2 linked regions of the Homo sapiens genome follow. The protein of the gene in region 1 interacts with the protein of each later gene in a pairwise test. Each region holds a gene or a part of one and is shown on either strand. Other genes may lie near its edges. The genes, in order: TAS2R19 and LNPEP.

What was found.
Region 2: the proteins of TAS2R19 (region 1) and LNPEP interact in binary tests that used the Homo sapiens proteins (3 or more experiments, as listed by UniProt).

The regions. Positions count from the first base shown.
Region 1 is NC_000012.12:11,020,969-11,027,016, forward strand, and holds TAS2R19 (taste receptor type 2 member 19), read right to left. Parts: upstream 1,653-6,048; 5' UTR 1,604-1,652; coding exon 704-1,603; 3' UTR 651-703; downstream 1-650. UniProt on the Homo sapiens protein: Receptor that may play a role in the perception of bitterness and is gustducin-linked. May play a role in sensing the chemical composition of the gastrointestinal content.
Region 2 is NC_000005.10:96,938,923-96,946,086, forward strand, and holds part of LNPEP (leucyl-cystinyl aminopeptidase), read left to right. Parts: intron 1-7,164. UniProt on the Homo sapiens protein: Release of an N-terminal amino acid, cleaves before cysteine, leucine as well as other amino acids. Degrades peptide hormones such as oxytocin, vasopressin and angiotensin III, and plays a role in maintaining homeostasis during pregnancy.

The sequences.
Region 1 (6,048 bases):
ATGATCATCAGCATGTTTCTTCATTCCTATTATAGAAATGATTTTTATTCTAGGCTATTCACATACTGGTATTAAATCTAGTATTCTTTAGTACTGTTTTGGTATACATATACAAAATTTACTCTACATATGTTTTTCACTCCAATTTTATTGTGTGCATCATTAACTAACAACAATTCTATTTGCTTTCTACTAAGCATAAAATAAGAATTCATAATGAAATAAAACCTACCCCAAAGATCCATTCTTATCATTGATTTAAAATTGAATGTCTTTACCATCCAAAAAATTAGAGGTTCACCAATGATAGTTAAGCACATATATGTGGTACAAATTACAATGGAAAAGAGAAATGATTTCTTCATAAAAGCTGTACGTTCTTAATTATAAAGAGAGATAATAAATTCTTCAAATGAAATACTATACAATGAACTATAATAAAATATAAATACTATATATGTGAAATATACTCAGCTTCATAATTTATGGTCAACGTTGTTATTCACACACATGCACACATATACACCCATAAATATATATATGACTTTTCTAGGTATCTGTTTTGAAATTACTCACATACAAACACTATGGAAAAACTGATAGAAATATAAAATGTTCCAGACACCATCAGTTTGTTTTCTGCTAGAAGACCCACGATGCTCCCCTTGTGAATCTATGGAGTTGAGGGTTTCTCTTCTTTCACTCAGCGTGTCATCTGCCACAAAACTGAAAGAAAGGTCTGTTTTAGCTTCCTACTTCCCATAATCAGGATGAATGAGTGGAATGAAGGATACATGATTGCAACAGTTTGGCAAAGCAGGAGTACAAGTTTGCTCTGCTGTGTCCTAAGATTCCAAGTTGATGTGATTATACACAGAAAGTAAATGGCAAATAACATGAGGAAGGAGGTCACAGTTTGCAAAGCTTTTATATGGACCTTGGTGCTGGGATCTTGAGATCCTTTGCTATGGAGCCGCATCTTCTTGAGATGTTTACAAAGAGAACAGATTAACAGCAGAAAACATATTAGGCTCAGAGTAAAGGGTATGAGGTTTGCTAGAGTAGTTACAGTCAAGCTTGAAAGGTGTATTGCATTCCTCAATTTGATCTTCCAAGTCACATTTCCTTCATATTCTTTTGTCCACACTCTCTCATCCATGGTTATCACAGCAAGATTACAAATCAGAAATACCAAGGGCCCCAACAGTATCACCAGAACAACACTCTTAATTCTCTTCTTTAGGTGGAGAGAAATAAGGTTGGAGAAATTGGCAATCTTGAGCAAACAAAATATGCTGAGGCTAGCAGCAAGCCACATGCTGAAATGGTTCGTTACAGCCCAGGCATTAGAAGCAACAATTCTTACTTCTAAACCATATAAAGCAGAATTAAACACAGTTGCATACCAAAGGAATAACATGACCCAGAGTAAACCAATTCTGGAGACCACCAGAGCAGTGAGAATTTGCTCAGCTGAGGAGATCTTTCGTGTGTTAACCCAGTCAATGACATTTACTAGGGCTATGAAGCCATTGGCAACATTTCCAAGAACAAATGCAAACACTACCAGAATTGATGAAATGATGAGCAGAAAACACATCATGTTTGAACAGATAAAAAAATGCAGGCTTAGTAACACTTGTTCTGAGTCCTTTAACATCCAGATGTTAACTTCGATGAACACTTGATTACTAAATGTGCAATAACATTTTCTGCCTTTAAATTCAGTGACTAGTGTCAACAGGCAAGCACCAGCATATGCTAATAGATGAATTCAAAACTGTCTTTATAGAAATAGAAAAGGTCATTATTCTCAAAACAGCTCAAATTCACTCCTCTTCATATACATTCTCTCCTTGCTATATGCTGTACTTTTTTATACTGAGGTTGAAGTGGAAAATGAATTCTCATGTGTTAGTATGCAAAGAAAGGCATATTATTTTTCATTGTTTTGCAATTTTTTTCCTTGTTTAACCTCTCCATAATTTGTATACAGCATCTTCAGTTGTTCCATAGGGAAATTGTAAAACCCAATACATATATCATATAGTAAATGTCTAAATTGTTAAAGGAGCTTGGTCATAACTAGGATCATACCAATATGGACTTATTTTTATGCCAGATTTAAATACCAGATTCTAAACCTTTTATCAAAATCATCCAAGATTATCTTGGAAATCCCTGGGAGGCTGATACACTTTAAAATCTGGTTTCTGATAACCAATAAATTGATATGACATCATTGTTAATAAGCTCCTAAACACATAGACACACATGCACTCACACCCTTAGGGCATGGAAGGAATTATTTTCTTATAATTCCCCAAATGGAAAATGAGTTTCCAGGAACTCATCCAGGTGGTATTAGTCTTATTTTCCAACTCAGGGCTGTCAGACAATGAATAATATTTATCAAACATGTTTCTCAAGCTTAGGCCTTTGGTATATTTACACTCAAGTCTGTTTTGTTTAAACATTAATTATTTAATTAAAATGTTCAGCAATTTTGTAAATATTTCTAAGTACCCTACTCTTTGTCACATAATCCTGCAGTACCCTCCCACCTCAGGCAGGGTGACTACCTTGACCTTGGACTCTGAATTCACTCACGTAATTTGCTTCAGTCAACAGGAAATTAGTAGAATTTACAGAGATTTAAGATGGCTTCCATATTGAAGTTTCCTGCTCTTTTCCACTAACCATGAGGACATCATCTGGCTAGCACACTGTTCCCAGAAGAAGAAAGAGAAACTAATGGAGTCAGAATGCCACTGCCTTATCTACCCTAAATCAGCCAAACTAGCGGCAAGATGCAGTACGTGGCCCATCTCCAATCACCAGAGCCATCCACCAAACCTAGGTTAGAAAAATGTAATCCAAAGACATAATGATACACAATTATCTAACTCAGTTTTCTCTTGCAGAAAAACATAAGTGATGTAGGTATTCTGCTAAATCAGGAGTGTGGGAAATATGCCCACCATTGTTGTGTCAGGAATTCAGGATCGAAGGAAAAAATAGAGAATGTCCAAGTTTTGTCATATGAAGTGGGTAATTAAACCTAAAAGAAAAACCTATTCAGAAATCTGTGGTTGGCAGGTAACATCATGTCAAGTTTCCTAAAGTTGCAACTAAAATCAGAAAGTTTCTACTTAAAATCTCTTAGAGTTACACATGAATGTATACAAATAGTGGATTTTTCCCTTCAGTATATAATGAGCAGAGTAATAATAATTTTCATGGACCATTTCTCCTAATTAATAATTTTTATCATATAGCTAGACTGCACACTTAGAAATGAACCAAAACAAAAATGGAAAACATAGCAATGTGTCATAAACACTCATGTAACCATCATGTAGGGCAAGACATGGAACATTGCTAAGAGCCTAAGTTTACCTCAATGCCACTTTCTAATTCCCTACACCTTTCTTCATGTCTCCTGTGATAAGCAACATCCCTAATTTATGATGGTCTTTTTTTAATATTCTTTATACTTTACCAATAAGGTATTCGACCCTAAACTCAATAGCTTGGTTTGGCCTGATTTGATCTATGTATAGGTGCAATCCTATATGTTCTTATTCATGGCTTCCTGGAATCAACATTTTGTATCCAAAATTTAACCCCATCATTGCATGTACATGTGATCCATATCTTTTCACTTCTCTATATTTTTTTCATTTTTTGATTTTACTGTAATTATTTATCCATCCTTATTTGATATATATTTGGACAGCTTATTTTTTGAGCTTTTATGAATAATGCTACAATGAACATTCTTTCACATATCATTTGCTACAATTCCTCTGTGTATATATATCTGGGTGTAGAATTACAGGGTCCTTGATTATGATGTTCAAATTCTTCTCACAGACATAGAAAAGCCCAAAACACAGTTTGACTAAATTTATTCCTGTTACCTTTATCTCCAGCCTCTTTATTGCTATTTGCATATATCTTATCAATTATACATTCAATCCAAGAAGACACTATTGTTTTATATAGTCAACATTTATTTAGAATTACACACTTAGTTTTCATTGTCATTAATTTTTTTTTTTTTTTTTGAGACATAGTCTCCCTGTCACCCAGGCTGGAGTGCAGTGGCACGATCTCTGCTCACTGAAAGCTCCGCCTTCCGGGTTTAGCCATTCTCCTGCCTCAGCCTCCGGAGTAGCTGGGACTGCAGGTGCCCGCCACCACGCCAGGCTAATTTTTTTTTATTTTTAGTAGAGACGGGGTTTCACCGTGTTAGCCAGCATGGATTGTCATTAATTTGTAATGCTCCTTGCGTGTTCAACTTTGTATTTTCAGTAATTTTATTTTATCTGAAAAATATCATTTTCAATTTCTGTTTATGAAGGTCTACTACTCTTTGGAAACACATTGAAGACATGATTCCCATTAATCCATTGAATTCCTGCTTCCATGTTTTCTGTTAAAATCAGGTTGTATTTAGAATACAGTTCTTTTCAACATACTCTATCTTCTACCTCTAGCTACTTTTCAGATTTTCTATTGGTCTTTTGCGTCCTGTATTATTTTATGTTAATTTGGTTTTAGTTATCATGCCTGAAGTTTGAGATTACTAAAAATATATTCAGGGATACATTTTATACCTTTTGGAAAAATCCTTGCAACATTTCTCTTGCTCTATTTTCTCTCCTCTAATCTTACAGAACTCCAGAAGTATGTTAGGTGTTCTGTCTGTAGCATCAATGTGTTACCCTCTAGCTCTGTGTATTTCCATCTCTTCCCTTCTATGCTTCATTCTGTGTAGCTATCTTCCAATTCACTTATTCTCTCTTGTACTGTATCCAACTGGTTAACTCTGTCTATTGGATTCTCAATATTGATAATTCATTTTTTCAGTCTTATTGTTTTAGTGTTCAGAATAATCTTTTATTCTCCTTCCATAAATCATTTTCTATGGGGAAACTGAACAAACTACTCTTAACACCATGTTCTTTTTAAAAGTGTTTTTGACTTTTGGAGTTTTTAGTTTTTTGTTTTACTCGATACTGTTTTACTTGATGTTTAAGATACCGGTGAGAACTTATACTTGTTTTTTTTTCTTCTTCTGAGACACAGTCTCCCTCTGTTACCCAAGCTGGAGTACAGTGGCAGGATCATAGTCCACTGCAGCCTGGAACTCCTGCGCTCAAGCAATCCTCCTGCCTCAGCTTCCCAAGTATTTGGAACTATAGGCATGCACCAACACACCAGCTAATTTTTTAAATTTTTTGTACAGACGGAGTTTCCACATGTTGTGAAGGGAACTCCTGCTCTCAAGGGATCCTCCCACCTTCGCCTCCCAAAGTGCTAGGACTGCAGGCATGAGCCATCACATCCAGCCTGCAGGGGGAGTTTTTGAAGGTCAGATACTACCTAGAGCTTCGGCTCATGTCCATTCCAAGGTGGAGCTAATCAGTTTGTAGTTACTACCTCTTCCTGAAAGTATAATTGAAATAGATATGTATGGCAGCCGGCAGGACTCACATTCTTCGTGAACTGTAGAGTAAAGGACATTATTATAGCAGGACCAAAGGGAAGCCTCTGAAATTCTCCTCTACTGGCAACAAAATATATAAAATATAATAACCGCATTCCCTAAGGAATGGAACTGGTCAGTGCCGTGACAAAACACTTGAAAGTTACAGGGGATGGTAGTCCTTTCTATAAGCCGATTCACTAAACCTATCTGGCCTCTATCAAAACCAGACGGGTTATAGAATGAATGCAGACTACCAGAAACTTAAATCAACACTCACAAATGCTTTCCAGGATGTGCTGTCTTCACTAAGCAGAGCAGAGCTTCTGGTACTTTTTACTGGGCTTGTGATTTGCTGAATGGTTCTTAATCTACACCCATTATGAGGAAAAATCAAAACAATTTGCCTTGTATCATAATAATAACACTGTGTCACTGTTTTATATCACGGCTATGTCACTTCTGTTTAATTTACATTTTTTAAAACATCGTGATTATTTAATATATTAATAATATTACAGACCAGGCCCTGTGGCACATGACTGTAATCCCAT
Region 2 (7,164 bases), on another chromosome or scaffold:
TGATTATGTCTTATTAGGCAGGTAGAGGTAAAACTGTTAAGTAATAGTGATTTGTATATTACAAAAAAAAAAAAAAATTGAAGGCAACTATCTGCTTTTTTGGTTAGAGATATTAGATTAAATAATTCTTTGATGTTTATCCAGATTTTTGTCTTCATTTGCATGCAGGGTTGGTATATTTTGTAAAAACTTAAATTCATCTTAAGAAATGCAAATGCTAAGGTTCACCCTCAGAATCTGATTAAGGAGGTCTGATTATATATGAAATACATACTAGAAAGTATGTATACTTTCTTTTTTTTTTTTTTTGAGACACAGTCTCACTCTGTTGCCCAGGCTGGAGTGCAGTGGCACAATCTCAGCTCACTGCAACCTCTGCCTCCCGGGTTCAAGTGATCCTCCTGCCTCAGCCTCCCGAGTAGCTGGGATTACAGGCGCCCGCCACCATGCCCAAATAATTTTTGTATTTCTAGTAGAAATGAGGTTTCACCATGTTGGCCAGGTGAACTCCTGACCTCAAGTGATCCGCTCACCTTAGCCTCCCAAAGTACTGGGATTACAGGCATGAGCCACCGCGCCCAGCTGAAAGTATATATACTTTCTAGTTTGTGATATATTCTAAAGTATATCTAAAGGTTGGTATTTTGGCATTTTGAGGTCCCAGAACTGAAAACATAAATAGTTTTTTTTTTCATATGAATGTAGGTCCTATGAATCACTTTTATTACCGCAGTGTGGTGCATAATCAAACAAGGAGGACTTAGTTGTCTTAAAAAATTATTTTTGCTTTCATGTTCAGATTGGTATCCAGTTGAAAGTATTTTTCAACTTCAAAAATGGGAAGTCTGGGCAACAAATGAGATATTTGTGGGTTGTAATACAGTATAAAATTGTGATTCCATCTTTTAATCTTACAAATAACAATTGTTCTATAGATATGTGAGTCTTTTTAAAAAAAAATTTTTAGCATCACTTCTCAAAAATGTGAGCATACCACATTTTGTTTTTATTTTTCTTTTGCTCTATGATAAATTTCCACATTGAAAGACAACTCTTAAGAAATAGGAGCTCATAGTTTCTCTGTGTGATGGAATATAAGTTAAATCCTGTTTTTATCTTTCTGTCTTAAGTTTTTAATTTTATTTGGGGGAAATAAGACTGTTAGGAATTAAGTGTTAGCATCACTAACAATCTAGGGTTAAAGCTATAGCTAGAAACAGCCCAGTTTTTAACTGGAAACTAGTGGTAGAAAAGTTCTTTGCTATTACTTGCCAGTTTCCAAAAACTGTCTTGATACATGCATAAAAACAGCATATTTTAGAAACTCTTATAACCGGTGATTATCATTTATCTGTAGGTTATCCTTGAGAACTCAGCCTGAAAGATAGATAACCAGAGAGATTGGTTATAAGGAAATTATATAGAAAATAAGTGGTAATTTTCTGCTCAGTAATTCAATCATACAGCTATCTTTTGAATGCCCATTTACAAGTAGATTTTCTGCTAGACACAGTTACATTAAAAAAAAAAAACCCACAACCTCGTCATCAGATAATGCTTACCTAAATAAGAGAAATGAATAGAAGAACCTAGTTTTGTTGTCATGCTAATATGAAATATGGAAACACAGAAGAAATAAAAAAGCAATAAAGTTTTGTCTAAGACAGTATTCTAATTATGAAATAAATGTACAGAAACTGTTCATAACTGTTTGCATGTCTACTAATTTAGTGTAATACTCCTATTAGGAAACAGCAGTATTAACCCTGTCTATGAAAACATTAGGAAATTGAGATTTGAAAGAGTTTAGCCAAGATTACCCCAGATGTTGGGATGGACCTAGATGAGGCCTGTGGTTCTTGGCAGTCGAGGTGAGGTCAGTGCAGCTATGTTTTGTCAATTAGTCACCTCATGACTTGAAAACTGTAGGGCAGCAGTCCCCAAACTTTTCGGGACCAGGGACCACAGTCGGGGGGATGTATGTATACTTTCTAGTTTGTGATATATTCTAAAGGGGAGAAGGTTTGGGGATGACTCAAGTGCATTATATTTATTGTGCACTTTATTTCTATTATTATTGCATTGTAATATACAATGAAATAATTATACAACTCACCATAATGTAGAATCAGTGGGAGCCCTGAGCTTGTTTTCCTGCAAGTAGACAGTCCCATCTAGGAGTGGTGGGAGACAGTGACAGATCAGGCATTAAATTCTCAAAAGGAGCACACAACCTAGATCCCTCACATGCGCAGTTCACAATAGGGTTCGTGCTCCTATGAGAATCTAATGCCACCACTGATCTGACAGGAGGTGGAGCTCAGGTGGTAATGCTAACGATGGGGACTGACTGTAGAGATGAAGCTTCACTTGTTTGCCTGCTGCTCACTCCTGCTGTGTGGCCTGATTCCTAACAGGCCAGAGACTGGTACTGGTCTGTGGCCTTGGGGTTGGGCAAACCTACTGTAGGGGGCTGGAGTTGAGCTGATACTACTAGGCCTTTCCATAGTATAATTGGAGCAACCAGAAAGACACAGTCTTTTATTTATTTATTTATTATTATTTTTTTAATTTGAATCCGTAGATAAATTTCAGCAACTTTTCTGAAAGTTTGCAAGAAGCCAGGATTGAGAATGAAGGGACATTTTGGAGCCCTTGTGGTGGTACAGTTCTTTTTATATCTAGATCTTGACCTAGATCTACATATGGCCGTTATAGAGAGTGTTGCTTATTGCCTTGGTGTTTCTGGACAGTAAATGGAACATCAAGAGTTCTCTGTGTCCATGGAAGGGTGGACAGGATTCCCTTGTAACCTTATCCATTGTTGTAATTCATTTGTGATTGTCCTAGCAGCACCTGAAGGACTTTGCATTTTACAAAGATGTTTAGAGAAAATTGGAAGAGGAGAATCAATGATGAAGATGAAAGAAATGTGGAGATTGGGGGTAAAGGAAGAAGCTGATAGGCAGAGATTTTAAAAATGGTCATGCCTTGATCCTTGCAAGTCTTTGGTTCAGAAATGAGCTTCAGTTGGAGAGCAGGACACTGTTGTATGAGGTTGAAGACAGAGTCTAGGTTGGAAGGGGACAGGTAGGTAGGTCTGGTTGGATTAATGGAATTGGGGGCTCAGGGGACAAATGAGTTAAGATTGGCATTTGGGAGCCTTGCCAAGAGATAGAAAACATTTGCCAGAAATTTAAGCATACTGTCTTTTTTATAGTCAGAAAATTCAGTCACTCGTAAGTTGGGACTGTTCACTTGTCTGAATGTTTTAGATTTAAAGAAAAAATATAGCTCTTTGATAAACAACGTGGTGTGGAGCTGTGGTAAGCCTGCTCTTGCTCCTGACTCACCGCCGCTCGCTCTCACCAAAAAACAGGTTGGTCAGGAGATACAGAAAAACGCCCATGAAGCCAGAGGTGGCAATTCACTGAATTAGAATCACTCTAGGCCCAGCGCGGTGGCTCACACCTATACTCCCAGCACTTTGGGAGGCTGAGGCAGGCGGATCACCTGAGGTCAGGAGTTTGAGGCCAGCCTGGCCAACATGGTGAAACCCTGTCTCTACTAAAAATACAAAAATTAGCTGAGTATGTTGGCACGTGCCTGAAATCCCAGCTACTCGGGAGGCTGAGGCACAAGAATCACTTGGACCCAGGAGGCGGAGGTTGCAGTGAGCCGAGATCGTGCCACTGCATTCCAGCCTGGTGACAGAGCGAGACTCCATCTCAAAAAAAAAAAAAAAAAAATACGAGAACACTTGGACACAGGGTGGGGAACACCACACACTGGGGCCTGTCATGGAGTCGGGGGAGGGGGGAGGGATAGCATTAGGAGATATACCTAGTGTAAATGACGACTTAATTGGTGCAGCACACCAACATAGCACATGTATACATATGTAACAAACCTGCACGTTGTGCACATGTACCCTAGAACTTAAAGTATAATAAAAAAATAAATAAATAAAAAGAATCACTCTAACGAGCTGCAAGGTAAAATCCTTGGAGAAGGTGTGTGCCGACTTGATCAATGGATCAAAGGAAAAGAATCTAAAGTGATAGGACCAGTTTGAATGCCTACCAAGACTTTGAGAAACATTACAAGAAAAACTTCTTATGAAGGTTCTGAGACATGGTATTGTTTCCAGATGAGAATCCATAAGTGACTCATTGACTTCCACAGTCTTTCTGAGATTGTTAAGCAGATTACTTCCATCATTATTGAGCCAGGAGTTGAGGTTGAAGTCACCATTGCAGATGCTTAAGTCAACTATTTTAATAAATGATTACCAGTTGTTTAAAAAAAAAAAAAAGAAAACTATAGAGAGCTATCTACCTTTTGGGACTACCATGGTAGCAGTCATTTGCTGTTCCTTTTTTTGGGAGGGACGGGAACAGGGTCTTGCTTGGCTGGAGTGCAGTGGCACGGCCACAGCACTGCAGCCTTGACTTCTCAGGCTCAAGCGATTCTCCTGCCTCAGCCTCCCGAGTAACTGGGACCACAGGTGCACACCACCATGCCTGGCTAATTTTTGTATTTTTTGTAGAGATGGAGTTTTGCCATGTTGGCCAGGCTGGTCTCGAACTCCTGGGCTCCAATGTTCTGCCTGTCTTGACCTCCCCAAGTGCTGGTACTATAGGTGTGAGCCAGTGCGGCCCTGTGGCCAGCCTACTATTCTTTATAGCCTGGCTTTGCTTCACTTTTCTACTGGTGCTTGTGATAGAACAATGAACCAATTAATTTTTTTAAAATTCCATCCTTAACATGTAAATGAGGAGGAAACCAGGTCATTTGCCAAATAAGGAAAATTCAAGCTTCCAAGGGAGTTTCAAAAAACAATGGAGGATCAAGTTCAATTGTAGGAGACTTTTTGAAATTCTTTTTCTTCTAATACATATTGCTTAATGAAGGTACTCCTGGGCATTCCACATATTTCAAAAATGTAGTCACTGAACCAGAACTTGAATCAGTTGTCTGAATTTCTCTGGATTGTGGGGCTCAGAGTCTTCTCCAGCCAATGATCTGGGGTGAAGGAAGTTAAAGAAGGCTTCTTCAACTGAGGGAACAGAAGAATGAGGAGTGCAGTGAGAAAAGGATGCCTCTATGGGTTGGGTGTGCTCCCTTCCTCTTGCAGCAAGTGATGAACAGTGCTATGTGGGAGCATTTCCCGGACAACTGACTCAGGTGTCATTCAGTGCCATAGAGAAAATTTCTGGTAAGGAAGGAGGCTTAAGCCATAGTATTTCTCACAGCTGAAACTGTTATTTTGTCAAATTTAAAACAGTTGTTAGTATATTCATCAATGAAACATCATTACATTGTCAATGAAACATTTCATTGTCAATGAAAAGAGTCAAACTGTAAAATCTTTAAAGAGGCTTATTCTGAGATAAATAATGTGTGACCAAGGCCCAAAGCACAGTCTCAAGAAGTCCTGAGAACATGTGCCCAACATGGTTGGGTTACAGCTTGATGTTATACATTTTAGGGAGACAGAAGTTATAGGCAGACAACAATCAATACATGTAAAGTGTACATTGGCTCAGTCTGGAAAGGGGATAACTCAAAGCGGGGACTTCTATTCCAGTTCATAGGTGGATTCAAAGATTTTCTTTTTTGTTTTTCTTATTTTTGCTTTTTTTTTTTTTTTTTTTTTTTTTTGAGACAGAGTCTCATTCTGTCACCCAGACTGGAGTGCAGTGGTGCAATCTCAGCTCACTGCAAACTCCGCCGCCCAGGTTCAAGCAATTCTTGTGCCTCAGCCTCCTGAGTAGCTGGGATTATAGGCATGTTGCCACCACACCCAGCTAATTTTTGTGTTTTTTCAGTAGAGATGAGATTTCGCCATATTGCCCAGGGTGGTCTTGAACTCCTGGCCTCAAGTCATCACCCACCTCAGCCTCCCAAAGTGCTGGGATTACAGGCATGAGCCACACATGTGGCCACATTCAAAGATTTTCTGATTGGCAGTTGGTCGAAATAATTAAGTTATTATCTAAAGACCTGGAATCCATAGAAAGGAGTGTCTGGGTTAAGATAAGGTAAGGGGTCATGGAGACCAGGGTTCTTAATATGTAGACGAAGCCTCCAGGTAGCAGGCTTTCAGAGAATAGATGGTTATTATCTCTTATCAGAACGTAAAATGTGCCAGACTCTTAGTTAAATCTCTCCTGGATCAAAAAAAGACCTGGGGTGGTGCAGTGGCTCACACCTGTAATCCTAGCACTTTGGGAGGCCAAGGCAGGAAGATTGCTTGAGGCCAGCAGTTCAAGACCAGCCTGGGCAACATAGTGAGAGCCTGTCTCTACAAAAAAATTAAAAATTAAAAAAAAAAATTAGTCAGGTGTGATGGTATGCACCTGTGGTCCCAGCTGCTTGAGAGGCTGAGGTGAAAGGATCACTTGAGCCTGGGCAAAGTGGAAGTGAGCTGTGGTCATGCCACTGCACTGCAGCCTGGGCAAGAGAGTGAGACCCTATCTCAAAAAAAAAAAAAAAAAAAGAGATCAGAAAGGTCTTTTTCTATAGAATGTTCCACACAAGAGACAGCTTTGCAGGGCCATTTCAAAATAGGTCTAAGAAATATATTTTGGGGTAAAATACCTTTATTTCTTTCACAGCCTGCTATCTGTTGTGTGATGTTATACTAGAGTCAGTTTAGAATTTGGTATTTTATTGCTACAAAGAGTGTTTCGTCAGTCTTAAGATCTCTGTTTTAATATTAATGCTGGTCAGTTGTGCCAGAATTCCAAAGGGAGGAGAGTATAATGAGGTGCGTCTGACCCCCGCTTCCCATCATAGCCTGAGCTAGTTTTTCATGTTTACTTTGGAATGCCCTTGGCCGTTCAGTCAGAGGGGTCCATTCGGTCAGTTGAGGGGCCTAGAATTTTATTTTTGGTTTACAAAATCATTCCAAGATCCTCTTTAGAGGAAAAATTTATAGAGATTAGTGGGAATGATGAGGAGAACTCAATCTTGAGAGCTCAATCAAAAGGAGATGTTTAAATATCTTTTTAAGTTGGTATTGGTAAAGTGCTTTGAAGACAGAAAGAATGTAATACATGTCTGGTGTCTGCTTGTCCTATAATTGTCGGAAGGGCCTCAATGATGAAATAAGGGAGGCTGCCATGACACTTGAGTCTTGGTGAGAGGAGCTAGTGTGTC